Linked DNA regions of Homo sapiens: all the other regions are reported to be linked to region 1. Evidence: microRNA targets listed by miRTarBase, many of them from high-throughput screens and not tested one by one. Region 1 holds a microRNA gene; each other region holds the end of a gene's coding sequence.
The links. The annotated mature microRNA hsa-miR-548d-3p reads CAAAAACCACAGUUUCUUUUGC and lies in region 1 at 3,355-3,376, shown strand. An mRNA with a match to its seed (bases 2 to 7 or 8) in the 3' UTR can be bound and repressed. Matches are read on the target gene's strand: a 7mer-m8 pairs with bases 2 to 8, a 7mer-A1 pairs with bases 2 to 7 and ends in A, and an 8mer does both.

Region 2: miRTarBase lists EXD2 as a target of hsa-miR-548d-3p. Seed matches in the 3' UTR shown: 7mer-A1 at 5,878-5,884, 7mer-A1 at 4,515-4,521 and 7mer-A1 at 3,812-3,818.
Region 3: the mRNA of GIN1 is a reported target of hsa-miR-548d-3p. Seed matches in the 3' UTR shown: 7mer-A1 at 4,696-4,702.
Region 4: miRTarBase lists RABIF as a target of hsa-miR-548d-3p. The part of its 3' UTR that is shown has no 7-base or 8-base seed match.

The regions. Positions count from the first base shown.
Region 1 is chr17:67,467,758-67,474,879 of GRCh38, reverse strand. MIR548D2 (microRNA 548d-2) reads left to right here and starts at 3,295; the gene lies at 3,295-3,391. The region is part of intron 1 of PITPNC1 (phosphatidylinositol transfer protein cytoplasmic 1); the gene reads right to left. It overlaps MIR548AA2 (microRNA 548aa-2), which reads right to left and starts at 3,391; the gene lies at 3,295-3,391.
Region 2 is chr14:69,240,201-69,247,322 of GRCh38, reverse strand. EXD2 (exonuclease 3'-5' domain containing 2) reads right to left here. Exons shown (of 10, transcript NM_001193360.2): 10 at 3,305-6,439. The coding sequence ends at 6,223. The region is part of intron 2 of GALNT16-AS1 (GALNT16 and EXD2 antisense RNA 1); the gene reads left to right. Among named protein-coding and RNA genes, the nearest start is that of GALNT16, 16 kb to the left of the region's middle.
Region 3 is chr5:103,081,963-103,089,084 of GRCh38, forward strand. GIN1 (gypsy retrotransposon integrase 1) reads right to left here. Exons shown (of 8, transcript NM_017676.2): 8 at 4,038-6,210. The coding sequence ends at 5,936. Among named protein-coding and RNA genes, the nearest start is that of GIN1, 35 kb to the right of the region's middle.
Region 4 is chr1:202,874,485-202,881,592 of GRCh38, forward strand. RABIF (RAB interacting factor) reads right to left here. Exons shown (of 2, transcript NM_002871.5): 2 at 3,798-6,739. The coding sequence ends at 6,494. It also overlaps the pseudogene ACTG1P25. Among named protein-coding and RNA genes, the nearest start is that of RABIF, 11 kb to the right of the region's middle.

The sequences.
Region 1 (7,122 bases):
GAGTTTGAGACCAGCCTGAGCAACACAGTGAGTCCCCCTCTTCAAGAAAAAAAAAAAAGCCGCCGGGCATGGTGGTGTGCACCTGCAGTCCTAGCTTCTCAGGAGGCTGAGGTGGGAGGATTGTTTGAGCCCGGGAGGTCAAGGCTGCAATGAGCTATGGATCATGCCACTGCACTCCAGCCTTGGCAACAGAGGGAGACAAAAAAATAAAAATAAAGAGAAGAAGAATCCTACGGATTGCCAGAATTGTGTGTGTTAATTTTAGATCTGTGGTTCTCAGCATGGGGCGATTTTGCTCCCCAGGGCACATTTGACACTGCCTGGAGACATTTTGGTGGTCACTGCTGGGGAAACAGGAGAGGGCACTAAAGCATCTAGAGGGTAGAGGCCAGGGATGCTGCGACACAGCCTGCAATGCACAAGACGGCTCCCACAACAATGAATTATCTGCTCCAAATGTCGGCAGGGCTGAGGTTGAGAAACGTTACTCTAGAGGCCAGGAATTTTGGCCAAGACAATTAAAATTCCAAAAGTCAACTTCCCATTGTCGTCACAGAAAACATCTTGACGGAGAAGACAAAAGCTAATTAGTTGGAACTCCTTCAAGTTCTCCTTCCTGACATGGAAATCGACCCTCCCAAACTTTCCTCTTACCCATTTGTGGGAACAGGGTGTCCCTTGTTTTTGCCAAGACCCCCACCTCCGGATCTCCTTCTCACTGACCTTCCTAGGAACTTCGCTCCATCCACCGCCCATTCCTCCCCCAGCATCTATGCTCCTCCTCCCCACACCTCCTGCTACCTGGCTCACAGTTAGGTTAACTTAAAGTAGTCCATTTTCCCATCTTAAAAACATCTCTCACCCAGAGAATAAAATAAGTACTTGTGAGTCCACACTGATATAAATAAATGAGAGGATAGATAAACAAATACCTGGAGAAGAAACAAATTTCCCTTACAGAAGAATTCCATGTAATAAAGGCAGAAGGCATGGGAGAATAGAAAATCACCAGGAGAACATTACAGTAATAATAGCTGCAGGCAGGGTCCACTGAGGAATGTTAAGTTCATGGGCAAACTTTAAGGGGAAACAGGATACCTGCATAGGCTCAACACATCCCTCCAAAAACATTTATTAGCCAGGTGAGGTGGCATGCACCTGTAATGCCTGCTACTCTGAAGGCTGAGGCATGAGCATCACTTGAGCTCAGGAGTTCAAGGCCAGCCTGGGAAACATAACAAGACCCCATCTCCAAAAAATATTAAAAAGCACACCAGGGCCGGGGGCGGTGGCTCACACCTGTAATCCCAGCACTTTGGGAGGCTGAGGCGTGCAGATCACGAGGTCGGTGAAACCCCGTCTCTACTAAAAAAATACAAAAAAATTAGCCGGATGTAGTGGCGGGCGCCTGTAGTCCCAGCTACTCGGGAGGCTGAGGCAGGAGAATGGCGTGAACCCAGGAGGTGGAGCTTGCAGTGAGCCGAGATTGTGCCACTGAACTCCAGCCTGGGCGACAGAGCGAGACTCTGTCTCAAAAAAACAAGCAGGCCAGGTAAAGTGGCTCACGCCTATAATCCCAGCACTTAGGAGGCCGAGGTGGGTAGACAGCTTGAGCCCAGGAGTTCAAGACCAGCATGGGCAACATAGTGAGACTCTATCTCTAAAAATAAGAATAACTTTTAAAATAATAAAAATACATTAATTGGCCGGGCACGGTGGCTCACACCTGTATTCCCAGCATTTTGGGAGGCCAAGGCGGGTGGATCACGAGGTCAGGAGATCGCGACCATCCTGGCTAACATGGTGAAACCCCTTCTCTACTAAAAATACAAAAAAATTAGTTGGGCATGGTGGTGCGCACCTGTAGTCCCAGCTACTCAGGAGGCTGAGGCAGGAGAATGGCATGAACCTGAGAGGCAGAGCTTGCAGTGAGCCGAGATCAGGCCACTGCACTCCAGCCTGGGCTACAGAGCAAGACTCCGTCAAAAAAAAAAAAATACCACATTAATTATGGTGCTGGTTTTAGCATATGTCCACAAATTCTTTGAAACCCCTCCCTGTAGGAGGCAGGGCCTAATCTCCCTCCCCTGAGTGACTCACTTCTAATGAATAGACGGTAAGCTTGTCCAACCCGTGGCCCAGGACAGCTTTGAATGTGGCCCAACACAAATTCATAAACTTTCTTAAAACATTATGATATTTATGCACAGACCTTTTTTTTTTTTTTTCTTTTGAGACAGAGTTTCCCTCTGTCACCCAGGCTGGAGTGCAGTGGTGCAATCTCGGCTTACTGCAAACTCCTCCTCCTGGATTCACACCATTCTCCTGCCTCAGCCTCCTGAGTAGCTGGGACTACAGGCGCCCACCACCACGCCCGGCTAATTTTTTCTATTTTTAGTAGAGATGGGGTTTCACTGTGTTAGCCAGGATGGTCTCGATCTCCTGACCTCGTGACCCACCCGCCTCGGCCTCCCAAAGTGTTGGGATTACAGGTGTGAGCCACCGCACCCGGTCCTTTTTTTTTTTTTTTTTTTTTTTTTTTTTTTTAGCTCAACAGCTGTCATAGTGTTAATGATGTATTTTATGTGTTGCCCAAGACAATTCTTCTTCCAATGTGTCCCAGGGCAGCCAAAAGATTGGACACCCCTGGAACAGAGTATGGAAAGGGAAATTAGCAGCTTACGGTGGGTAACTCTGGTAGACAACGCCTTAACCAAGTGATCAAGGTTAACTTCACCAGTGAGCAATCAGGTAGATATCATGTGCCCCCTAATATTATGTGATGAGAAGGCCATTTCACCTCTGGGGTATTCTTTCCCCAAACCCCAACTGCAGTCTAATGATCAGAAAACATCAGACAAATCCAGATTGAGGGACATCCTACAAAATACTTGACCAGCCCACTTCATAAATGTCAAAGTCATAAAAAAACAAGGAGAGACAGAGAAATTGACATAGATTGAAAGTGACTATTATGATATAATAATTAAGTGCAACATTATATCCTGATTAAATCCTGGAACAGAAAAAGGACATTAGTGGAAAAAACTGGTGAAATCTGAAGAAAGTCGGGAGTTTAGTTAATACAACTGTGCCCATGTTAATTTTTGAGTTTTGATAAATGTATCATAATTAGTACGATATTAACATTGGGGGAAGGTGGATGAAGACTACGGGGGGTTCTCTGGATTTGCAACTCTTCTGTAAATCTAAAGTTAACTTTAGGGGGTATATGATGTCAACCTGATTTAGCTAAAGTTAACTTTAGATTTACAGAATAATTGCAAATCCAGAGAGAGGGAAGATTTAGGTTGGTGCAAAAGTAATTGTGGTTTTTGCCATTGAAAGTAATGGCAAAAACCACAGTTTCTTTTGCACCAACCTAATAAAATAAAAAGTTTAAAAGGAAAAAAATCTCTCAAATGAAGACGTAGGTCCACACAAGGACTTGTATGTGAATGTTCATTGCAACTTTACTCAAAATCATCCAAAACTGGAAGTAACCCAAATGTCCATCAACTGGTAAATGAATAAACAGACTGTGGTATATCCATTCAGGGGAATGCTACTATGCAATAAAAAGGAACAAACTATTGATACATCCAATAATATGGATGAATTTCTTTTTTTTTTTTTTTTACATTTTTTTTTTTTACATTTTTTTTTTAATTTATTTTTTTATTGATAATTCTTGGGTGTTTCTCACAGAGGGGGATTTGGCAGGGTCATGGGACAATAGTGGAGGGAAGGTCAGCAGATAAACAAGTGAACAAAGGTCTCTGGTTTTCCTAGGCAGAGGACCCTGCGGCCTTCCGCAGTGTTTGTGTCCCTGATTACTTGAGATTAGGGATTGGTGATGACTCTTAACGAGCATGCTGCCTTCAAGCATCTGTTTAACAAAGCACATCTTGCACCGCCCTTAATCCATTTAACCCTGAGTGGACACAGCACATGTTTCAGAGAGCACAGGGTTGGGGGTAAGGTCACAGATCAACAGGATCCCAAGGCAGAGGAATTTTTCTTAGTGCAGAACAAAATGAAAAGTCTCCCATGTCTACTTCTTTCTACACAGACACGGCAACCATCCGATTTCTCAATCTTTTCCCCACCTTTCCCGCCTTTCTATTCCACAAAGCCGCCATTGTCATCCTGGCCTGTTCTCAATGAGCTGTTGGGTACACCTCCCAGACGGGGTGGTGGCCGGGCAGAGGGGCTCCTCACTTCCCAGTAGGGGCGGCCGGGCAGAGGTGCCCCTCACCTCCCGGACGGGGCGGCTGGCCGGGCAGGGGGGCTGACCCCCCCCACCTCCCTCCCGGACGGGGAATATGGATGAATTTCAAAAACATTGTGTTGAGCAAAAGAAGTGAGACACAAGAGACTACATCTGTATGACTGCATCTATAGGAAACTTTAAGAAAGGCAAGACTTTAGTGCAAAAGCAGATCAGTGCTTGTTAGGAACAGGAGTGGGGAATGTGGGGGGTAGAGAGAAGTAATTGACAGCTAAAAGTCACAAGGGAAGTTCTAGGGGTGATGAAATGTTCTGTATCTTGATGGGGCAGTGGTTACATGACTACAGTGTGTGTATATATATGTTAAAACTCATCAAGCTGTACACTTAAAGTGAGTTCTATTCTATGTTAGCTATATCACAATATGGCCAGGTGTGGTGGCTCATGCCTGTAATCCCAGCATTTTGGGAGGCCAAAGTGGGCAGATCACTCGAGGTCAGGAGCTTGAAAACAGCCTGGCCGACATGGTGAAACCCCATCTCTACTAAAAATACATAAATTAGCCAAGTGTGGTGGTGTGTGCCTATAATCCTGGCTACTTGGGAGGCTGAGGCAGGAGAATCGCTTGAACCCAGGAGGCGGAGGTTACAGTGAGCTGAGATTGCACAACTGCACTCCAGCCTGGATGACAAAACAAGATTCTGTCTCAAAAAAAAATTATATATATACATATACACACACATATATATATTATATATCACAGTAAAGCTGATTTTTAAAAAATCTCTCAGCCCCTGCTATTGCTTTGTTTTTATCCTCCTGAGCCTCTCTATAGCTATGGCACTTGAATTTCCTTCTTCCTCTTGGTGGCTTTTGTTCTGTCTTATTTCCTGATGCCCTTTCTAGGTCCCTAAACATTAGTGCAAAGAGGGCACCAGAGCAGAGGGGAACAATTCTCTCTACACTCAAGTGGAATCTCTGAGCTGAGGGACCCAGAGAGGTGGAGTAGCCAGCAGGGCCCTGATGACCCGCACCTGAACTCCCACGGGTCTGACGGCTGCTGTCACAAGAGCCTGGGGCCGCTGGTCTGAGTGTGCTGGCGATCCAGCCAGGCTCAGGACGCTGAGGAGGAGGTAACCGAGACCAGGCTTCTCCCTTGTCAACAGGCAGACAGATCCCGGGGATCTTGTTAAAACACAGAGGCTGATTCAGCAAGCTGGGCGGGGGCTGCAGATTCTGCATTTCTAATAAGCTACGGAGTGATACGGTGCTGAGGGTTGGAGGCCCACACTCTGAGCTCAAAACGGAGACCACAGGGATATGCAATGTGTGCAGAGAAGGGGGAGGATGGCACAGGCTGCAGCAGTGGGGCGGGTGCTTGGCTACACTTGGAAAGGAAGTTCTCACAGTGTCTACAGCAGGAACCCAGACAGTTTCTGAGCCATCCTGGGGCTACTACAGGGACTGGGAAAATTGCACCAGTTGGGGAACAAAAAGTAAACAATGGTCTTATTACAATTAGTATGGTCTTTATTGCATGTAGGTGACAGGCCCTTAAAGAAGGTTTCATCCAGACATTCTCCCAGATCCCTCTCCATACTCTCTCAAGAAAGTCACCTGGGCCAGGCGCAGTGGCTGACTCCTGTAATTGCAACACTTTGGGAGGCCGAGGCAGGCGAATCACCTGAGGTCAGGAGTTTGAGACCAGCCTGGCCAACATGGCGAAACCTCGTCTCTACTAAAAATACAAAAATTAGCCAGGCGTGGTGGTGGGTGCCTGTGATCCCAGCTACTTGGGAGGCTGAGGCAGGAGAATCGCTTGAACCTGGGAGGTGGAGGCAGGAGAATCGCTTGAACCTGGGAGGCAGAGGTTGCAGTGAGCCGAGATAGTGCCACTGCACTCCAGCCTGGGCAACAGAACAAGACTCCGTCTCAAAAAAAAAAGCGGCCAGGCACGGTGGTTCACACCTGTAATCCCAGCACTTTGGGAGGCTGAGGTGGGCGGATCACGAGGTCAGGAGATCGAGACCCTCCTGGCTAACACGGTGAAACCCCGTCTCTACTAAAACTACAAAAAAATTTAGCTGGGCGTGGTGGTGGGCACCAGTAGTCCCAGCTACTCGGGAGGCTGAGGCAGGAGAATGGCCAGAACCTGGGAGGCAGAGCTTGCAGTGAGCCGAGATCATGCCACTGCACTCCAGCCTGGGCGGCAGAGTGAGACTCCATCTCAAAAAAAAAAAAAAAAAAAGGAAAGAAAGCCACCTGTTCATTCCTGTGGCTTCACCACGGCTTCCCCAAGGGACTCCCAAATCTGTCCCTGATGCTGCTCCTGCACGCCCCCAGTGTTGCTAACAGCTGGTAGCTATCTCCAGCTCCTTAATTGAGCCTGAAACTCACCATGTCTCAAACATGCCTGCTTCCTCCTGTACTATCTTCATCAGCTGGTGGTTGTACTAGACACTTCTACGACTCTAAATAACCCTTCCATAGCATTGCCTGACAACCAAGACCAAGAGATAGTCACCCCTTGTCACACTCTCTAGTTTCTTTTATAATGGTTATCTCAGCTGCAATTAATTAGGGACAGGATTATTTGTGAATATCCATCTCTCTCACAGGACAATAAAAGGGCAGAGGCCCTCTCTGCTCTGTGGTCTGCTTCCCACTCTGCCCCAGCACCAAGCCGAGAGGCTGGCATGAAATACAAGACATGCAATTACATCGTAAGTCTCCAACTCAATTCTGACACATTAGGAGTCTCTAAACACAAACATTAGGGACCATGTCAGTTTCTGAAATGCTCTTGTTTACTGACATTTAATCATTTTCCCAGGGACGGCTTTCTACAAGATCAGGCTGACCTCTTTGGGGGTTTTATTCTTAGATGATGA
Region 2 (7,122 bases), not on the chromosome of region 1:
GGGGATGGAGATATAGAAAGAAATGTCTTCAGCAGCTTATAAAATGCAAACTTTACATTTTGCACATGTCTGTCTAGCTGATGCCCAGGCAAAGGCAAAGGCAAGCAGGACAAAGTCCAAGGCATGTCAGGGTTATACAAAACAGGCTCCGGAGATGCTTCCCTGTCTCCCTGTGAGTTCTTCATGTCTTAGCACTCATGGATGGGTAAGAACACGTTAACAGTGTGGACGCCTCCAATATTCTTGGGCTGTTACAACCCCACACACAAAACACAGAAAGAGTATTTTTACTTATTGGTTTAAGGTTTTTTTTTCAAAGTACCCAATTCAATTCTCCATTACATACATATATACATACATATATGTGTGTATATATACATATGTATATATACACACATATATACGTATATATGTATATATACGTGTGTGTGTGTATATATATATAAAATCTTAATTTCTTTATCCTTAAAATGAGAAACAGTCTTTCCCCACTCAATATCCTCCCATCTACAACACCTGGCACACTTGCCTCATTTCCCTTTTACACTTATCTCCTATTAAATCCTAGAGCACTGGCAATGTGGTTAAACATACAGATTTCCCTTCTCTCTTTCTGATTATTCAGTGGACTGGGCGATAGGGAAATGTGAGCTCCCCACACACAGACATCTCTGGTGAGACAGGTATTCTGACACCAGATGGAGAGAGCAGGCTTCTCCCTAGTCAATGAGGCCATGGTGTGGCATCCTGCTTCCCTCATTACCCTTCTTTCCATGCAGTCTCCATTCCCAGCGCTGGGGGTGGGACGAGAGTGTGCAACAAAGCAGAAAGTACACAGTACTCAAGGGAAAGGGCCACATAAGGAAACAGTGGGGTGGATTACAGAATGCTACAGCTAGGAGGGCCCTTACAGCACATCTAATTCAAACCTCTATAGATACAGAAAGGAGCCCAGAAAAGTGATCTGTCCAAAGGCACACAGCTGGTGGCTGGAACCAGAACCTCAGTCACCAGCACACTTTTTTTTGATCCTCCAATACATGACAGAACTAGGTATAGGAAAGAGCAAAATTTAAAGTTCAGTTCATGAACAAGCCCCCAGCCTACCCCATCCCCACTAAACAAACATACCTCCTTTAAAATTATCCATGTTTCAGTCTCATTCCTTTTCAGCCCCCTGTAGCTGACTAAGCTCAAAATTCTGTTTCTTACCCAGGACTTAATAGATACCCTGGTGGCCTGAGTGGCCAGAATCTCAACTCCGCCCTGGCGTGCTGCAGCCTGAGAAGGGAGATCTTTAGGAAGCAGAAGTAGGGGCCGGGTGCGATGGCTCACGCCTGTAATCCCAGCACTTTGGGAGGCTGAGGCGGGCGGATCACCTAAGGTCAGGAGTTCGAGACCAGCCTGACCAACATGGTGAAACCACGTCTCTACTAAAAATACAAGAATTAGCCAGGTGCGGTGGTGCACGCCTGTAACCCCAGCTACTTGGGAGGCTGAAGCAGGAGACTCGCTTAAATCCAGGAGGCAGAGTTTGCAGGGAGCCAAGATTGCATCACTGCACTCCAGCCTGGATGACATGAGCAAAACTCTGTCTCAAAAAAAAAAAAAAAACAAAAAAAAAAGCAGCAGCAGCAGAAGCAGATTCTAAGTAGCCATTTCAACTCAGGAATTTTCTGAACCCAAACATCATGCTTATAATAATGCTGCCTGTAAACTCGGCAGCTTTTGAAGCTTATGCTGGGAGAAAGGCAACAGGCTACCCATCCAGCAAGAGAGAAAAATTCAAGAATAACAAATAGCAAAAAGCAAATGCTTTGAGTTCAGTCTGGAGGGTATGACATTATCTCCATTCAGTCACAACACAAAATGACCTTTGAGGCAGCCTGCACCACATCAGAAGGGGGTACAACCCAGGATGCATGAACTAGGTCCTTTGACAACTCTGTTCCTCTGCAAAGGCAGTTCTTGATTATCTCTCAAATGATTAACCATTTGGTCCAGTTACCCAGTTTCTAGGGGCCTTCAACCAGAGTTGGCCACAGATAAAGCTGGTTAAAAAAAAAATGGTCTAATGTACTTCCCACCTTTCTAAATAACATGCTAGCATTTAAGCAAGGCCTTGCTTCCTCAAGCAAAGGGAGTGACTAATACGTCTCCTAGCAGGCTGGTGGAATCGGTACTTTTGAACACATGGGCTGTGTGGCTGCACGTCATCCCTACTCCATTGCCTGATGCAAAACTACTCCAGGACTGGGACAGGCAGAAGGTGCTGGGCTCTTGCACAAGGGGTATCTTGGTGAATGCCTGAAAATTATACCTGAATTCCAAAACAAAAGTATTTGGGGGACTGAGCACAGTGGCTCATACCTGTAATCCCAGTACTTTGGGAGCTAAGGTGAGAGGACGGCTTGAGGCCAGGAGTTTGAGACCAGCTTGTGCAACAAAGCATGACTCTATCTCTACAAAAAAATTAAAAAATTAGCCAGGCATGGTGCCACAAGGCTGTAGTCCCAGCTACTTGGGAAGCTGAGATGGGAGGATTGCCTGAGCCCTGGAGGTTGAAGCAGCAGTGAGCCATGACTGCACCACTGCACTCCAGTCTGGAGTGAGACCATGTCAAAAAAAAAAAAAAAAAAAAAGTACTGGGGAGATTATGTATTATTTTTATGTTATTCATATCAATCAACAGTTAATCAAAACAAGAATCATTCTTATACCCTCTTTTAGTTTATCTCTTCCAACAGAAACTGATTCTCAGTGTATCCCTAAGGGGATTAGGTACTCTCAAAAAATAACCATCTTATAATAGGAAACATAAAAGACCAGAAAGAAAGATCCATTTAAAATACATAATAATTAGTAAACTAGCAAACTGAGAAAATATCTCCTTTAAAAGAAAAAATGATACTTCTTATAAGGCTGAGACATAAGGAAGGGGAAAAAAAGGAAGAAAGGATAAATAAATGAATGAAAAATTGAGAGGCAGGGTAAACTAAGAACTTAACTTACAGTCAAATGTTAGGGCCCCAAACTAATAGGCGAATAGGAAGGTGAACAAAACCTCTTTCTGCCTGCTGGATTCTTAAGAGTCTAAAATGCATGATTAAAATGGCTTTATTTCAACAGAACACATTTTGTCATCTGATCTCTATCCGTGACATGGATAAGAATAAGTAACTTATGGCTGTGCTCTTAAGCGTAAGCCGTAACAAATCCCTGAATATTGTGCCTCATTCACTTTGGGATGGCAAATCACTAATTGTTTGTGTAGCAGGGAAAAAACATCTGCCTACAGCCTATATTTTAAAATTTAAAATTTTATTTTTTTACCTTTTTTTTACATTTTTATTTTAAAATAAACAGTGTTTCCAAAAAACATTGACTACAAGGGGGAAATGAGGCAATAAGGTTGGAAGAAGGGAAGGACTCAAGAAGAAATGCTGAACCTGCAAACACAATGATCAGGGAGCATGCAGAGAGGCCCTTGCTGTGACACTGTCCTCTCACTGCTACTCCTATGAAGCCCAGTGACTATGCTGGGACACTGGAGCTAAAGGGTCAAAGAGAAGCATTTCATTCCTAAAAGGTGATGTCAATTTGTACTTAGCCCCAGCAATGTGAATCCCCCTCTTCACAGTCCAATTCTAAGATTCCATTCTTAAGAAATTACCAAAGATAGAGCCAAAGAGATATATACAAGAAACTTTATCACATCATCATTGATAATAAAAGTATCTGAAACAACCAAAATTTTCAACAGTGTGGGGATGGATAAGGTAGAACCACTAGAAATCTATTTTCAAAGATTTAAAAACATAGGAAGTTACTCGTGATACCATGTTAATCAGTGAGAGGGTAAAGTTAGGATACCAACCTGTATCTATGTATGACCTTCAATTTTGTGTAAATATACACCTTATATGCACTTTTTAATACTGAAAGGAAATTCATAAACATATCAGCAAAGTTTAGCTCTGTTTTAGATGGAGAGAAGATGGCTAATTTTTATTCTTTGTTTAGATTCTTCTGTAATGAGCATTGTTACTTTTATATCAGAAAAATAGACATTTGCCATAAAATAAGTCTACCCTCAAATCTCTGATTTAAGACGACAATTGTCAGTCTTAGGAAAAGCCTGCTAAAGTTCAAAGCAGACTCAAAGAAAAAAGATTCAAATCTACACAGTGACTCTCTCCTGAAAAGGATGAGAAATCTTGTGTGACGCAGTCTGGCTTTTTCCTCTACTTTGCTGCTGGCTCTATTTTACTGCGCCTCACAGAAAGCTCCATGGGAAAACCCTTTCCCTAGCACCTTAAATGACCTTAAGTGTTTCTCACCTCTTGGCATGAGGATTAGAAGGAAAGAAAATGAAACAGCCCTACTCCCTTGTTTCAAAGGAAAAATTTTTCTTGCAAAGCTATCAAAATGACTTAAAATCAGCTATGCAAAATTTGAAACATAAGTCATGAGTTACGTTCAGTAACCAGTTGCTTTTTTCTCAAGAATGAATATAAAAACAAATCTATGAGTGCCCTCTTGTGGCAAGCCTGACTATTACCACAACCCAAGTACCAGCCTCTCCCTGTCTATTTCCACGGCTCTCCTCCACTCCTGGGCTCCGCATAACACAGCCAGGAGGCAGAGACCCCATAATAACCCACTACAGTGAATGCACATTCCTCAAAGTGGCTGGTACTATTTGTTTTCAAGGATTTCTAGTTTAGATCCCAGAAATGCCTGCCTGAAGACAAGTGGGAATGAAGGGTCAGAAGAGCAAGATGCAGGATGTGCACGTGGGTTCATGGGCTGCTACTGATGGCCGATGGTGACTGTGTCTGGTATATCCATGCACACATACCATGGCACTGCCAGGAGGCAGGGACCTGTAGGATAAATAGCCCCTCCCCTAGGAATGCCAGTTTTATAAAGTCGCGAAGTTTTACATTTACATCCAGTGAGCCTTGTGCTTACAAGTAGTTTTATTATTAATTTTAGAGTAAACATCACCAACTTGGGCACAATTCCAAAATAGAGCTCTTGTTGGATTCTGGTCATAAAATTCTTTTTTAAGCTTGTTAAGATCTTATAAAATAAGAAAGTTTTCCCAATACTTTAGAAAAATTACTAATCATTAATAAGTCGATTTTATACTCAAAGTAATGGCCTAACATTTTGAAAGATGAAACAACGCTCCTCTTTTGAACATCTAATGTATTAAGTAAGCTCAGTGTCCCAGGCTTCAGAGGAGACAGAGAAGTCCTCATATTGCAACCTGACCAGATGACTCTGGGAGTGAATTAAATGCTTAAAAGAGGTCAGTCTTGCAAATTCGATGAAGCACAGAATACAGGGGAACTGATACTGATTCTGATAAAAGATAACATTACTCTCAGAAAGGGGTGAAGCTAAAAATCTTGCAGTTCTGGGGCAGGAGGAGTGCAACAAGCAGGCAACAAACAGCATGAAAGGAAAAGCTGAGTGAATTTCAAAGTTCTATTGGGAGATGGAGTTTGTGGTTCTTTCTGCCCCACCCAGGTCAAAGGCTCATGTCCAGAAAAGGATTTCTCCCAGTGATAGGGTGGAAGTGTGTGGCAGGAAGTTGCTGTTTGGTCCTGGAAGTGTAAAGGAAAGCCTTTTCAAGTACGTGAAGTAGACTGAAGTGACCCAGATGGGATGGATCCCAACCACATGAGTTACGGGAGAGCATGAAGCCAAAGAAATGATAATTATGAAGTTGAATTGGGAAAATAAATTTGACTCCTTGTTCACTTCTCCAGCCTTTGGAAGAACTTTTTCTCCCCTCCTAACAGGACCGATATACTGGACAGCCCCTGTTAGAGATAAACCGAGGCACTAGACAAGGAAGAAATGCATTAAAAACATTTTTTTTAAGTCTTGACAAGTCACTTCTGGGAGAATTCTTCATTTTTCCTCTGCACAGGGACAGCAGAAGAGGGAGAGTAAAAATAAAGGCGAAGGCCTCTCTTGTCCACAAAAATGAGAGGAAAAAAGACCCTGCCCGTTTAAAATCCAAAACCATAAACTCTCCTTCAAACAATATCTTTGCTCCAGCAGAAGCATCCTGGGATTAGTCTAGGTTAGTATTCTGAGTTGTGTCACACAGGCTTTGACAATTAATGATGTACTAAAATGGGAAGAGGTGACTCTTCAACCTTGGCTCCAGCTTCCCACTTGTCCTAACTGGGAGGAAAGCAGCTATCAAGACAGCTGGATGGGAAGATCTTCCCCGAATTTCCGGAGCAGCTTCTGATGGTTGTGGTCCACTGACCACTGCTGGGGCAGGTGCTTGGGCTGCATGGAGTCCAGGAAGTGCTGACGCCAGCGGCTCTCCAGCTGCATGAGGGAGCGCAGGCCACCCTGGCTGTGACACTGCACCACCTTCAGCCCGTGAGGAACATAGTTTTCATTGGAGATTCTGCCAAAACATGAAAAACAAAGTGTCTGAGGGAAACAAGCGCAGGATGGCCTCACAGACAGCTTCAAATGCTGCGCGCCAAGGGTAACTGGGGAGGTTGAAGGACTCCTAAAGGGTTAGTTACTTTGGTGTTTTCGAAACATCCTCTTTCTTATCTCTGCCCTTTTTATAGTCTGAACATACGACTCGCAATCCCAACAGAAGGTATTTGAGGGTTCTGAGCTCTACTGACAGGAAGGCCACTTCATAATGTTCAGCTCCCACGAGAGGGGCACTACCATCCAGCTGATAATGGATGAAGAATGCTGGTCTTCCATTTCTTCCAGGATTACCCAGTGACCAGTTCACCCCTCTTTTAAGTTGTTCATTCTGGGACACAGTATTTATATGAGGCTGTTAAATCGGCCCGCATGTTACACTTTTTCACAACACAATTTAATAACTGAATGTCAAATGCAAGGTAGCATATTTCTTTAGAGCCTTTTTTCTCACAAAAAGATGCCAAGCCACAGTGGTGAGAAGTGTTTCGGTCACAGTGAAATGCTTCCATGGTTGCTCAGTTGTGCAAATGGTGCCATTAAATGAGAAGATGAATGCCTCCCTCCTTCCTAACTAAGCAGAGTCCTTAAAAAACTGCTCCGATGCTGTGTGAATGGTGCTTTCACCTCCTGTGAATAAAGATG
Region 3 (7,122 bases), not on the chromosome of region 1:
GGTTTGTATATTCCCAGGAATTTATCAATTTCTTCTAGGTTATCCGATTTGTTGGCATATAATTTTTCACAGTAGAGTCTTATGCTCCTTTCTATTTTGCTGATATCAGTGATCATATTTATTCTCACATTTATAATTTTGAGTCTTTTCTCTTTTTTCTTACGTCTCACTAAGGGCTTATCAATTTTGTTTATGTTTTCTAAACACTAACTCTTCATTTCATTGACATTTACTATTTTTCTAGTCTCTATTTTGCTTATTTCTGCTCTGTCATTTATCTCCTTTTTTCTGCTTTGTGCTTAAGTTCTTTTTCTAGTCCTTGAGATGTAGAGTCAGGTCATTTCTTTTTAAAAAAAATGCTATAACCTACTCTCTTAGAACTGCTTTTGGTCTCTCTCATAAGGTCTGGTTATTTTGTTTCCCTTTTGTCTCAAGATATTTTTACATTTCAGTATTGAGTTCTTTTTTGACCCACTGGTTGTTCAGGAGTTATGTTAATTTCTACATACTTGCAAATTTTTCAGTCTTCCCCATTTTGGATTTCTAGTTTCATACCACTTGAGTCAAAAAAGATACTTGATATACTTTTAATATATTCCTAAATTCATTAACACTTGTTTTGTGGCTTAACATGACCTATCCTGGAGACTGTCCTGTACTTACGTCAAAGGAATGTGTATTCTGCTACTAATGAATAGGAATGTTCTGCATATATCTGTTAGATCCAATTGGTCTATACTGCTGTTCAAGTCTGCTGTTTCCATGTTGATTTTCTGCCTGGATGATCTATCCATTAGCGAAAGTAGGGCATTAAAGTTTCCAACTATTACTGTATTGCTATTTCTTCATTAATTCTGTTACTATTTGCTTTATATATTTAGGTGCTCCAATGTTGGGTGTATATATATTTGCAATTGCAGTATCTTCCTGATGAATTAACCCCTTTATCATTATATAATAACCTCGTCTTTTGTGAAAGCTTTGGACTTAAAGTCTATTTTGTGTGATGTAAGTGTAGCCATTGTGCTCTCCTTTGATTACCATTTGCATGGAATATATTTTTCCATCCTGTCACTTTTAGTCTATGTGCATCCTTAATCTGAAGTCTCCTCTAGTCACCATATAGTTAGAGTTTGTTTTTCTTAATCTATTCAGTCACTCTGTATTTTGATGGAAGAATTTAATGCATTTAAAGTAACTGCTGATAGCTATGGATGTGCTACTGTTATTTTGTTCATTGTTTTCACTGTTTTGTAGGTCCTTTTCCCTCTCTTCCTCTTTCTGTCTTCCTTTGTGATATAACAATGTCTTGCGGCGGTATACTGTGACTCCTTTCTCTTTATCCTTTTTGTGTATCTACTACAGGTTTTTCCTTTGTGGTTACCATGATGCACATCTGAAACATCTTATAGTTATATCAGTCTATGTTAACCTGATAACAACTTAATTCTGATTACATACAAAAACTACACTTTTAAAATTTCTTCTCTCCCCACGTTTTGTTATTAATATCACATCTTTAGATAATGTGTAGCCATTAACACATTATTGTAGCTAGTTTAAGAAATATTTTTGTCTTTTAACTTTCATACTAGAGTTATAAGCAATTTACACACCACCATTACAGTATTCTGAATTTGACTATGTTCCTACCTTTACAGTAAGTTTAATACTTTCATATGTTTTCATGTTGTTAGCTAGCATCTTTTATTTCAACTTGAAGAACTCCCATTAGAATTTTCTGTGAGACAGGTCTAGTGTGTCAAATTCCCACAGCTTTTTTTCTGGGCAAGTTTTTGTCTCTTCTACATTTATGAAGGACAGCTTTGTTGGGTATAGTATTCTTGGTTGAGTTTCTTTGGCTAAATATCTCATTCCACTCTCCTGGTCTGCAAGGTATCTGGTGATAGTTTTATGAAGGTTCTTTTGCATGTAATGTTGCTTTTCTGTTGCTGCTTTATAAGTTTGAGAACTTGATTATGTTTCAGTGAAGATTTCTTTATACTTCTTCTATGTGGTGTTCCTTGGGATTCCTAGATAAGGATGTTCACTTCCGTCTCCAGATTTGGAAAGTTTTCTGTCTTTATCTCTTTTAAAAAGCTTTCTTCCTTTTTCTCTGTCTCTGCTTCTTCTAGAATTCCCATAATGAACATTTTTGTTTACTTGATGGTGTCTCAAAGGCCCATAGGCTTTCTTCACTTTTGTTTCCTCTAACAAGGTAATTTCAAAGGCTCTGTCTTTCGGCTTGTTGATTCTTTATTTTGCTTGATCAAGTATGCTCTTGAAGTTCTTTGTTGAATTTGTCAGTGCAGTTACTGTGTTTTTGAGTTCTAAAGTTTAATTTTAAATATGTTTTCTCTCTTTTTGTTAAACTTCTCATTTTCTTCATGTAAATTTCCTGATTTTGGTTAGTTGTCTGTGCCCTCTTGTAGCTCATTTGGCTTGTTTTAGATAATTGTGTTGAATTCTTTCTCAGGCAGTTTTTAGATGGCGATTTATTTATGGTCATTTACTGGTGCTTTTTTGTTGTTGTTCTTCTGGTGGCATCATGTTTCCCTGATTATTCAGGATTCTTGCAGTCTGTGTTGCTACCTGCACATTAAAAAAAATAGGCACCTCTTCCAGTCTTCATAGACTGGCTTTGGCAGAGAAAGCCCTTCACCAGTCTGCCAGTCTAGAGGTTCATGGTGGGCAATCTAGTGGGGTCCTCATGGGGGGCTGGCCTGATGCTTGGGTCCTCAGGGGCCAGCCTGCCCTCTGAGGTCTACTGGGGAAGACCTGGACCCTGAACCACAGGGACTGTCCTGGAGCCTGGAACTGTGGATGCCTACCTGGAGCACCATTTTAAATTGTACATTTCAGTAGATTTTAGTATATTCAAAGTTATGAAACCATCGCTAGTAAGTTTAGAACACTGTTGTCACCACAAAAAGAAACCCCATACCAATTAGCACTGTGTAGCTATGTTTCACCTTTGTAGAAAAGATGTGCATAACTTTGCAGCAACTTTTGAGATCTAATGCTCAGTTCATGTTTTCCTTCCCTTGTCATGGTGAGCTGTTATTCCAGAGATGGGGAACCATGGCCCCACATCCAGCAGTGGTGATGAAAATGCAGACAAGCCCTTGATGAACTAAGAGAAATATGTGGGGTGTCCAAGAAATAAAGCTTTGTTAAATTACTAAGATTTTGGAAGTGGTTTGCAGACACAGAATAATCTAGCCTAACATGACTAATAAACACAGGATAAAAGTCTGTTTAATGAGAAACTACTTAGGAGAAGCAAAAATTAAAAAAAATATGTTTAGAGTTGGTTATTTTAAAATGACTCTGAATACTAATCACCTTCTTGAAATGGGGGGAAAAGAGGCTGATTTTGAGTCAGATAATCATTAAAAAGAAGTTACTTCATTTGAGCTAAGAAAAAGTCACTTATATTTACCAAAAAGATATTCTAATATGACTCTTTTCTAAACTTTGCTCTTCTGAGGAAAGCAGGATAGGTAGCACTGTTTGATACAATTACGCTTTTTTAAAAAAAGTTTTGTTTTTTTCTTCCTGGAATTCTGTTTGAAATTTATTTGGTCTGTGGTATAAGATGAGGTCCTAGATTCACACCCTACCCTAAACACTTTTCCTTTAGCCTATATTAAACATAATCTTTCTTCTTAAATGAGTAATCAGAATACTCCAGGTCTCCATCTTTGATATCACATCACTGTTCAGTATGGTTGTGAAATATAATATGTGCGATATTCTGTACTGATCTTAAGACAGACTCCATTCATTACCAATGCTACAGGCCCAGTTTAGGTTTTTAGTATTCGTCATCACTGCGAAGTCCTCTCAACTAATCTCCATGCCTTGTTTTCTCCTCTTCTAATCTGTTCTTTACTAGTTGCCAGATTAAACTTCCAAAAACACAGTTCTGATTATGACAGTTTCCTATACAAAGTTTTTGCTCTCAGAAAAGAAATAATTTAGCCAGGCATTTGTATTATTGCTAGAGCTACTGTAACAAAGTCCCACAAACTGGATGGCTGAAACAATAGAATTTTATTGTCTCACAGTTCTGGAGGCAAAAGTCTGAGATAAGGTATTGACAGGGTTGGTCTTCTGAGGAATGAGGAAAAATGTATTCAATGCCTCTCCCCTAACTTCTGGTAGTTTTCTGGCAATCTCTGTCATTTCTTGGCATATAGAAACATAATCTTAAACTCTGCCTTTATCTTCACATGGCATTCTCCTTGAGTCTGTGTTCAAATTTTCCCCTTTTATCAGAACACCAGTAATACTGTATTAGAGCCCACCCTATTGAAATATGATCTCAACTAATTACACTTGCAACAACCTCATTTCCAAATAAGGTCACATTTTGAGGTGGTGGGGGTTAAGACTTCAACACAAATTTTGGGAGGGGCACATATCAATCCTTAATAGTATTCAAAGCTCTCCATAAGGTTTCCTACTTACCTTTTCAGCTTTATCCCTCATTATCTTGCTTCTTCACTTTATACCCGAGGCAGTGTAGACAACAAGAAGCCCTGCCTTTTTATGAATCATTACAATACTTTTCCATTTCTGTGTATTACTTCTCCCCTAATTCTTTTGTATCCATTTACCAAATCCTATACATTCTTCAAGGTCAAGCTTAAATGATCCTTCTTCCATAAGGATAAACACAAATTTCCTATGTAAAAACAACTTCTCTCTTTTTGCCTCCCTAAGTACATTATCTACACCTGTCTTCTGCAATTTAGCATGCCTTAACTTGTGCTGTACATGGCTTACATAGTTTATTACCTACCAGACAGTAAGTCCTTTATAAGAATGAGGTACACGTTTGACTCATCTTTTACTTTTCCCACAGTTCTTTTCATAGTGCTTTAGAATAAATATTTATTGAACAATATTTATTTTATATTTATGAATATCATAGAAATTACAGTTTAAAATCTTTGATACTGGTTATTTTATGATTTTATGATTGCAGAAAAAATTCTTAACGGATACTTTTGTTGTTGTTGTTGAGACAGGTCTTGCCCTGTCGCCCAGGCTGGAGAGCTGTGGCATGAGCGCGGCTCACTGCAGCCTCGACCTCCTGGGGTCAAGCAATGCTCCTACTTCAGCCTCCTGAGTAGCTGGGACCGCAGGCATGTGCCACCACACCTGGCTAATTTTTAAACATTTTTCTGTAGAGATAGGGTCTCCCTGTGTTGCCCAGGCTGGTCTCGAACTCCTGGGGTCAAGTGATCATCCTGCCTTGGCTTCCCAAAGCGCTGGGATTACAGGTGTGGGCCACCATGCCTGGTCGATGGTTTTATCTTTAATATATAGTATGAAAATAAACAAATTGTTTCCCAACCAATACATAGTTTCAGACCCTAATCCTGACCCTATCTAACCAATTAGATAATTTGAAATTACCAATATTCTGTGAAAGCCTATTAAATAACCCTATATTTTTTCATACAATCTTGTTTTTAGAAGTTCTAATGAAACAGAAAGAAGCTTCATTTCATTCATTGTTACAGTTGATTCAGTATTTATCAATTCCATTCAAGGTAGTTCAAACTTACTGTTTAAATGGTAGAGAATTTCAGAAAATTTAAAACTTAGAAACGGTGCCAAAACCATACAAAGGTTTGAGAGATTTGGGCTGGAATTTATTTCCCAAGAAGTAGGGGTGCTTTGCCTGTTCTCTTTTTAGAAGAAAAAGTGAATTCTATATATTACATGCTTCCTTTGCCTTCATATGTACGTATACTGATATTCAAATGTGGCATAATTTTAGATAAGAACTATAAAATAAACCTTCAGAATATAGTCATTAAGAATGTGTCAAGATACTTCTTCTATACAACGTTTTTAATGAATAAGATATCATTAAGAATTTATATTCTAAACAAACAATTTAAATAAATTTTGGTATTTACTAACTTAAGTATTCAAGAACCTGGTTTGAAGAGTCCAACAGACTGAAAGTCTGCTTTTCAAGAGAACTATGATCGTCTATCAATGGAGAGATTTTCGTATTTCTATATTCTAATAGTTCACGATCCTTGCTTGATGTCAGTAATTCATTATCGACTATACCAATAGTTGCATCTTCCACCAGAATATTTGCTTGATATGCTCCAATCGGAATTTCAGGCAATCCAATGTAGTCATGATCTGCCACTACTGAACCTTGCAAGAGATAAAGACTTTCTGAAAAAAGAAAAATCATACATTTGACTTTTAGAATTATAATTAAACATATTTTTTAATTAAACAATTTTAAGTGAGGAACAAAATCCCAAGTAATAAAAATTAACTATCAAGATTAACTTCTAGGGAGTTATACTGTCTACTAAATATGAATGTCAAAGAATAAAAAAATGACATATAAATTTGACAGTTCATACATAAACAATGCAGGAAAGGTCAAGGATTTTAAAACAGCCATTTTCCTGTTCCCTCAACCTGTCTTTGGTAGATATGTATATATGCGGACAACGGGATAGAAGGAGTGAGAATTATGGTATAGATTAAAAATAAAATAATAAGGCTGTGCACAGTGCCTCATGCCTGTAATCTCAGCACTTTGGAAAGCCAAAGCCGGTAGATTGCTTAAGCCCAGGAGTTCAAGATCAGCTTGGCCAACATGGCGAAACCCCTTCTCTACAAAAAATACAAACAATTAGCAAGGTGTGGTTAAGGGTGTCTATGGTCCTAGCTACTTAGGAGGCTGAGATGGAAGGATCACTTGAGCCTGGGAGATTGAGGTTGCAGTGAGCCATGATGGCACCACTGCACTCCAGCATGGGTGACAGAGCAAAACCCTGTCTTAAAAAAAAAATTATAAAACTATTTTTGATAATGTTATCCTTAATATGCTTCTGTAAAGCATTTCTGGGTGAATTAATAGGGTCATATAATTATTTTAACAAATAGAATTATTAAATCCTTGCATTTACAACTTGAGATAATCTTCCAATCTTTATAAAACCCATATTGGAAAGATAATATCATCAAATTGTTACAGTATGAAGTTAAAAACAACATGCCAACTGAGGCTTATGTGATAATGTGTAAGAAGGCAGGCTGCCATGGAGTAGCTTAAAAAGCTTAGCTTATTTA
Region 4 (7,108 bases), not on the chromosome of region 1:
TAGAACTTGGTGCTGATTTTGACTTTGTTAACCGTTCCCTTGGTATTTGTTTAATACCCTGTACATATCTTTGATTTATACCCTTAGTACATGTGGCTCAGTAACTTCATGGCTGAGGTGAGGACATGCTTGTGGGAGGGAAGTCTGTGGCTTGGTGGGTCTGTGTGACCTGCAGTCTCCTTATCTGTGCAGGTACTAAGGTGTCAGAGAGCTCAGTGTTCCAGGATTTTCCTTTTTTTTTTTTTTTTTTGAGACAGAGTTTCGCTCTAGTTGCCCACACTAGAGTGCAATGGCGCAACCTCGGTTCACTACAACCTCCGCCTCCTGGGTCCAAGTGATTCTCCTGCTTCAGCCTCCCAAGTAGCTGGGATTACGGGCATGCGCCACCACACCCGGCTAATTTTGTATTTTTAGTAGAGACAGGGTTTCTCCATGTTGGTCAGGCTAGTCTCAAACTCCCGACCTTAGGTGATGCACTGTGCCCAGCCATTCCAGGATTTTTCTAGAGCCTGGCAAGAGCTCCTGAACCAGTTTCATTTCTGTCTTGCTGGTCTATTAGTGTTAAGTCTTGAGCTAGAAGCGGTTTACATTTACACCTGTAAATTTATTCATTCTTTTAATTTATGTAAGTTTTTTGTACATAATTCTCAATTTTTAAAGAGATGACCACAAATTTTGGTTTTCCACTGTTATTTACATAAGGAAAAATAAAGTGCTGCAGTAAACCAAAAAATAAATATAATTCGCTCTAACCTCTAGCTCCATTTTCAAAAGTCTGCATGAACTTCTTTAAATTAGTCCCATTAAAATGATAACACTACTCAGCAGAGTTTATTTTAAATTCTCTTCAAAACTATTTACTGAACTATTATAAATTTGTCAGACACTAGGCCATGCACCAAGAGCAAATAGGATATTCTGAGTCCTTATTCTTATGAAATTTATCATCCTTAGAAGTGAGGAAGTAGAGTCAGGCATTTAACTTTTTTTTTTTTTTTTGAGACGGAGTCTCACTCTGTCACCCAGGCTGGAGTGCAGTGGCGGGATCTCAGCTCACTGCAAGCTCCACTTCCCGGGTTCACGCCATTCTCCTGCCTCAGCCTCCTGAGTAGCTGGGACTACAGGCACCCGCCACTGTGCCCGGCTAATTTTTTGTATTTTTAGTAGAGAAGGGGTTTCACCGTGTTCTCTATCTCCTGACCTCATGATCCGCCTGCCTCGGCCTCCCAAAGTGCTGGGATTACAGGCATGAGCCACCACACCCTGCTATTAACTTTTAAATATGTATAAATTTAGGAGATAATGGAAATGAAATGCTATCTGATTTTGAAGGGAAGAACTGATGTTTAGAAAAGTGGGCTTTATATAGAACCACTACTTACATTCTTTTAAAAATCTTACTGTCACCAGGCATGGTGGCTCACACCTGTAATCCTGTAATCCCAGCATTTTGGGAGGTTGAAGCAGGAGGATCACTTGAGGCCAGGAGTTCCAGACCAGCCTGGGGAACACAGTGAGACCCCATCTCTCCAAAAAAAAAAAAAAAAAATAGCCAGGCATGTCAGCATGCACCTGTAGTCCCAGCTACTCACGAGGCTAAGAGGCAGGAGGATCATTTGAGCCTGGGAGTTCGAGGTTGCAGTGAGCCGCCATCGTGCCATTGCGCTCCAGCCTCGGTGACAGAGTGAGGCCCTGTCCCAAGAAAAATAAAAACCTTATTGTGAAAATACATGTTCAGAAAAGTACACAGAAGATGTACAGCTCACTTTATTACATAGCAACTATCAAGATTTTAAAATGTAGAACATTACTAGCATTGCAGAAGCTCTCCTCATGCCCCCTCCAAATCATTACTCCTACCTTTATCATAAATCAAGTGTCCTATATGCGTGGGTCTGTTTCTGAGCTCTTTTGTTCCATTAGTCTGTCTATCCTTGTGACAAGCTACACTGTCTGTCCAATAGAAAAATTCTCCCACCTTGTTTTTCTCCATGACTGTCTCGGCTACTCCTCGTCCTCTGCATTTTCATTTAACTTTTACAATCAGTTTGTTGAATTTCACACACACAAACTTGAGTTTTTGACTGGGATTTACTGAATTTATACATCAGTTTGAAGTTGAGATTGTTAACAGTATTAGGAGTTAACAAACTTTTTTCTTAAAGGGTTAGATAAGTATTCTAAGCTCTGTGGGCTGAGGCAGAATTGGAGATATTATATACTTACATAACCATTTACAAAACATAAAAATCGGCCAGGTGCGGTGGCTCACACCTGTAATTCCAGCACTTGTGGGAGTCCATGGTGGGAGGATCACTTGAGCCTAAGAGTTTGAGACCAGCCTGGACAACATGGCAAAACCCTGTCTCTACTAAAAATACAAATTAGCCGGGCGCACTGGCACATGCCTGTGTTCCCAGCTACTCAGGAGGCCGAGCTGGGAGGCTCGCCTGAGCCTGGGAGGTTGAGGCTGCAGTGAGCTGTGATTGTGCCACTGCACTCTAGGCTAGGTAACAGAGTTAAGATCCTGTCTCATAAAAAAAAAAGTAAAAACTATTTTTAGCTTGAAAGTTTCTGAGCCTCAATAGGTACTGGCTGAATGAATTTGGCCTGTGGGCTATAGTTTCCTGGCCCCATGAATTTGTTTTCTTTTACTTTCTCTCAGTAATGTCATATAAGGTTTTGTGTTGTGGTCTTACATATCTACTGTTAGTTATGTCTAACCCCTAGTTTTCTAGTTCTCTCCTCAGTTGTGCCTAAGCTGCTGTTAAAGCATTCCAGTGAACTTTAGAGACAGGGGCTCACTGTTGCCCAGGCTTGAGTATAGTGGCATCATCATAGCTCACTGAAGCTTCTAACTCCTGGGCTCAAGTGATCCTCTCACCTCAGCCTCAAAAGTAGCTGGGACTACAAGCAGGTGCCACCACACCCAGCTATTTTGTTTTTTGTGGAGACAGGGTCTCACTATGTTGCCCATGCTGGTTCCACTGTATTTTTTCTTTTGTTGAGACGGAATCTCTCCCTGTCCCAGGCTGGAGTGCAGTGGCACAATCTCGGCTCACTGCAACCTCCGCCTCCTGGGTTCAAGCGATTTTCCTGCCTCAGCCTTCGGAGTAGCTGGGATTGCAGGCGTGCACCACCATGCCTGGCTAATTTTTGCATTTTTAGTAGAGACAGGGTTTCACATTGGCCAGGCTGGTCTTGAACTCCTGACCTCATGATCCGCCGGCCTTGGCCTCCCAAAGTGCTGGGATTATGGGCATGAGCCACCATGCCCAATCAAGTTTCCACTGTATTCTTAATTTTGATTATTGGATTCTTACAAATTCTAGAATTTACTTTTTAAAAAAACATGTTCATGTAGCTGCTGAATTCCCAAACTAGTGTCTCTCCTTGAACATGGTAAGCAGTTATTTTAGTCTGATAGCACCGATGTCTCCAGCCACTGTGGGCCTGCTATCTTGTCTCACGTGCCTGGTTACATCTTGTTGTACTCAGGATATTGTATTAGCAAAATTGTAGAAAGAATCTGGGTTTAGGATAATAATAACATCCTCTAGAGAGGGGTTTTGTTTGCTTATCCAAAGAGTTTGGGCAAACTACCACTCTGGGATCACCTTAATCTAATTTCAAGGATTAAGATCCGTAATCGGAGGCTGGGCTGCAGTCCCGAGAGCCTGTTTCCTACACCGCCTCACCCTTATTCCTGGGGTGCAAAAGACTGAGGGCTTCAACCAAAAGTGAGTAACACCACCAAGTCCATCGCCCTTTCACAGGCCCCATCCCCTACTTCTGAAAGGCTGCTAAAATCACTGCTAAGCCTCTGAATCACCTCCAAGTTTGGCAAATGCTCCCAGGAGAACGGTGGCCCTCACACCAAGCCCACCTCCCAGGGTTCCCATCTCCTCTGCTGTCCTGGTTTAGCAATTCTTCAAAGTCAAGTCGGCTCTCTTGGTGTGTTCACACAGATTTCTAAAGTATTTTGTCCAGCCTTTCTAGTTAACCAGTGAGCTGGGTAGTCCAAAGGACCTATCCACCATTATCAGAAGCAGAAGTCCTCATAGTTACTCAGTTACATGTGTAGCCTCATATACAACATGGTGACAATTTGTGAAATGTCAGTACACCACTGCCCATCTTTGATTCCATGTTTTTGTAAAACAACAGACAATTATGTGGAAACAATCAGGCTTTCACAAAATCAACTGCTCTCCCCAATAGAAAACGGAAGTTTCTATACTCGGAGCAGAAAGCACAGGTTGCCTCTATCTACCCACAGCAAATAGCAGCTGATTCACAAGTATGTACTGAGAGCCTATTAGGTGTGAGGGAAATGAAGAAATGACGTTTGCATTTTATAGCTGACTAGATAATCAGTTGGTTGACCTTAAGCTAAACCCCAAGGTTCAGGTTTCAGCTCTCCTTTGTTTTTTCAATTTATATATTCTTCCCAAGGACATGCAGAAATCTAATTTCCATTGCTTAAATGCCTTTATTTCTTTCAGATCAAACTGAAAAGGCAGAATAGCAACCTGATATTTTTGGCTACTAGGGCAACATTTGGCAGTTCTCAAAAAAGGAAATAGAAATGACCGATACGTATATAAAAGTTTCACTAGAAATAAAATAAATGCAAATTAAAACAATGAAATACTATGGTTTCCTATTCAAGTCGCTATATATTTTTTTGTTGTTACTGTTGTTGTTTGTTTGAGACAGGGTCTCACTCTGTTGCCCAGGCTGGAGTGCCAGTGGTGTGATCTTGGCTTACTGCAGCCACCATCTTTGGGGCTCAAGTGATCCTCCCACCTGAGCCTCCCAAGTAGCAGGGACTACAGGTATACACCACTATGCCCAGGTAATTTTGTTCATTTTTTAAATAGAGATGGGGTCTCACTATGTTGCCCAGGCTAGTCTCAAACTCAATTTAAAAAATGCTTAGCTTAGGTTCTGGCTTGTGATGTGAGGGGCCATGTGCCCCTAGAGGCATCTACTTGGGTTTTGCTCCTGACTTGTGTGGATAACTCTGTTTTTCTGCACATGCCATAACGATGGACATGTGACCGTTTGTCGGAAAAACACAGTTCTCTCAATTGCTTACTAAAGCTCATTCAGGCTAATTGGAGAAGGAAGCCATCTTTCCAGGGGAGTAGGTTGGTTGCAAAACTGTGCCCAAGGCCACCTTGCACTGCAGTCGGGGAGCCCTTAGAAAGTTTGGGGGTAAAGGAATGAGGAAGCAACTAGAAAACAATGGAAGGGACTTCAGATGGTAAGGTTTCTGTTTAGTACTTATTTCAATTTTAGGCCTCCTGAATAGTAGAGGTGGTGACAGGAGGATACCTGAAACCTTGGTTATATAATAAACTTCCTTCTACGACAGTGAGTCATTTCAGAATAGAAATGATGGAATAATTGGAAATCAAGTTGAAGGCTTAAACACGTCTGCTGATATCAAACTGTTAGAGCAGCCCCGGAGCTATGGAAATTTGTATCCATGCATCTGGATGGAAGTTTGTATCCTGGGTTGGCACAGAGATTCCAGTTGAACCAAAACTCCATGAGGACCATGCCCAGTAGGTTCAGTAAATGATACTATCCATTAAAGAAGTCTTGCCTATGAACAAAAGAAGAAAGTTACTTGTCCAGATGTGGCAAATTATAAACTTTTGTATAATGTGGCAAAGGCCTAACCCTCATATCCTACACCCTCCACTCTCATTCTAAGAGAGCCTGAGTAAACAGCCAGGGCTGGGTTTTCCTTGAATGGCTGCCAGATGGGGTTAAAATCTGCTTCTCACCTTCTAGGCTGTAGCAGTGAGGAGCTAATATAAAAAGAAACTACAAGATTTCAAGGGAAGAGGGACCACACCCATCTTCACAATAAAATGTCATTCTCAACCTAGAGCAGAGGTGCTCAAACATGGTATTAGAGATGCATCCAAAGTAATGTTTCTGGTTAGTGGTTTAAATACTGAGTTTTGAAAATGCTTTACCTTTAGAAAGAATAAATTACTGTAGATCACAAGGGTAGCCATACAACAAAGTCACTCTCAGATATTTGTATGCCTTCTTGAATGAGAAAAAGGCAGATTTCAACTATTAGTACATAAGCATCTTTTGTTATGTGTCATCATAGCTAAAAGGTTGAATACTGCTCTTCTAGAGCAAGAAAAAGCGGGAGCCCCTGGGCAAAACAGAGCCTAGGGAGAATGCCAGGGAAGAGATGAGATTTTTGGAGGTAAGCACAGTGTCCCAAAACTGGGGGAAAAGGGAGCTTAGGAAATGTGATACAAAGTGAACTAAGCAGGAGGCATGTACTTGAGGCTTTAGGAAGCAGGATTAACCCTCTGCATGTTCAAATGGACATGCTGGTACTCAGTATTTATATTAGCACAGACAAGAAGGCAGCGGAACAGTTATACCACATTAAAGGCCAGTTCTTGTGGGGAGTAGGTTTATCTTTGGAGATGGAGCTGAGTACCCCTCCCCTCAGTTACTCATGGGAAACTCGTTCCAAGGCCACATAGAAACTGTTCTTGTCATCTAGGCAATGCCAGCCAATTGGTCCAATTTCACAGTCTGCGCAGACCAGAAACTTGATGTTGCCCACGTCCTTGGTGAAGCCCACATTCTCAAAAATGAACATGTCCTCAACCAGCCAGTGTTCCTGGAGGAGATCGCCGTCAGGATTGCTGCCGTCAGACAGAGCTGGCTTCTTTCTCATGGAGGGAAGGAAAAGCTGCAGTGGGAAAGAACATAAAGAACGCAGAAGTTGAACTGGCCCAGTTCCATCAACACCCCCGTTCTAGGTACACTTCACATTGCTCCCTAGCAGGAATGACAAAAAAAGAGAAGCCCTCTCATTAAGCTGTAGACGATGATGCTGGGTGGCTCTTCTTTGCCTCTGGTCTCTGCCCTGATTCTTTTTTTTTTGTGAGACAGATTCTCCCACTGTCGCCTAGGCTGGAGTGCAGTGGCGCGATCTCAGCTCACTGCAACCTCCGCCTCCTGGGTTCACGCCATTCTCCTGCCTCAGCCTCCCGAGTAGCTGGGACTACAGGTGCCCGCCACCACGCCTGGCTAATTTTTTGTATTTTTTTTTTAAGTA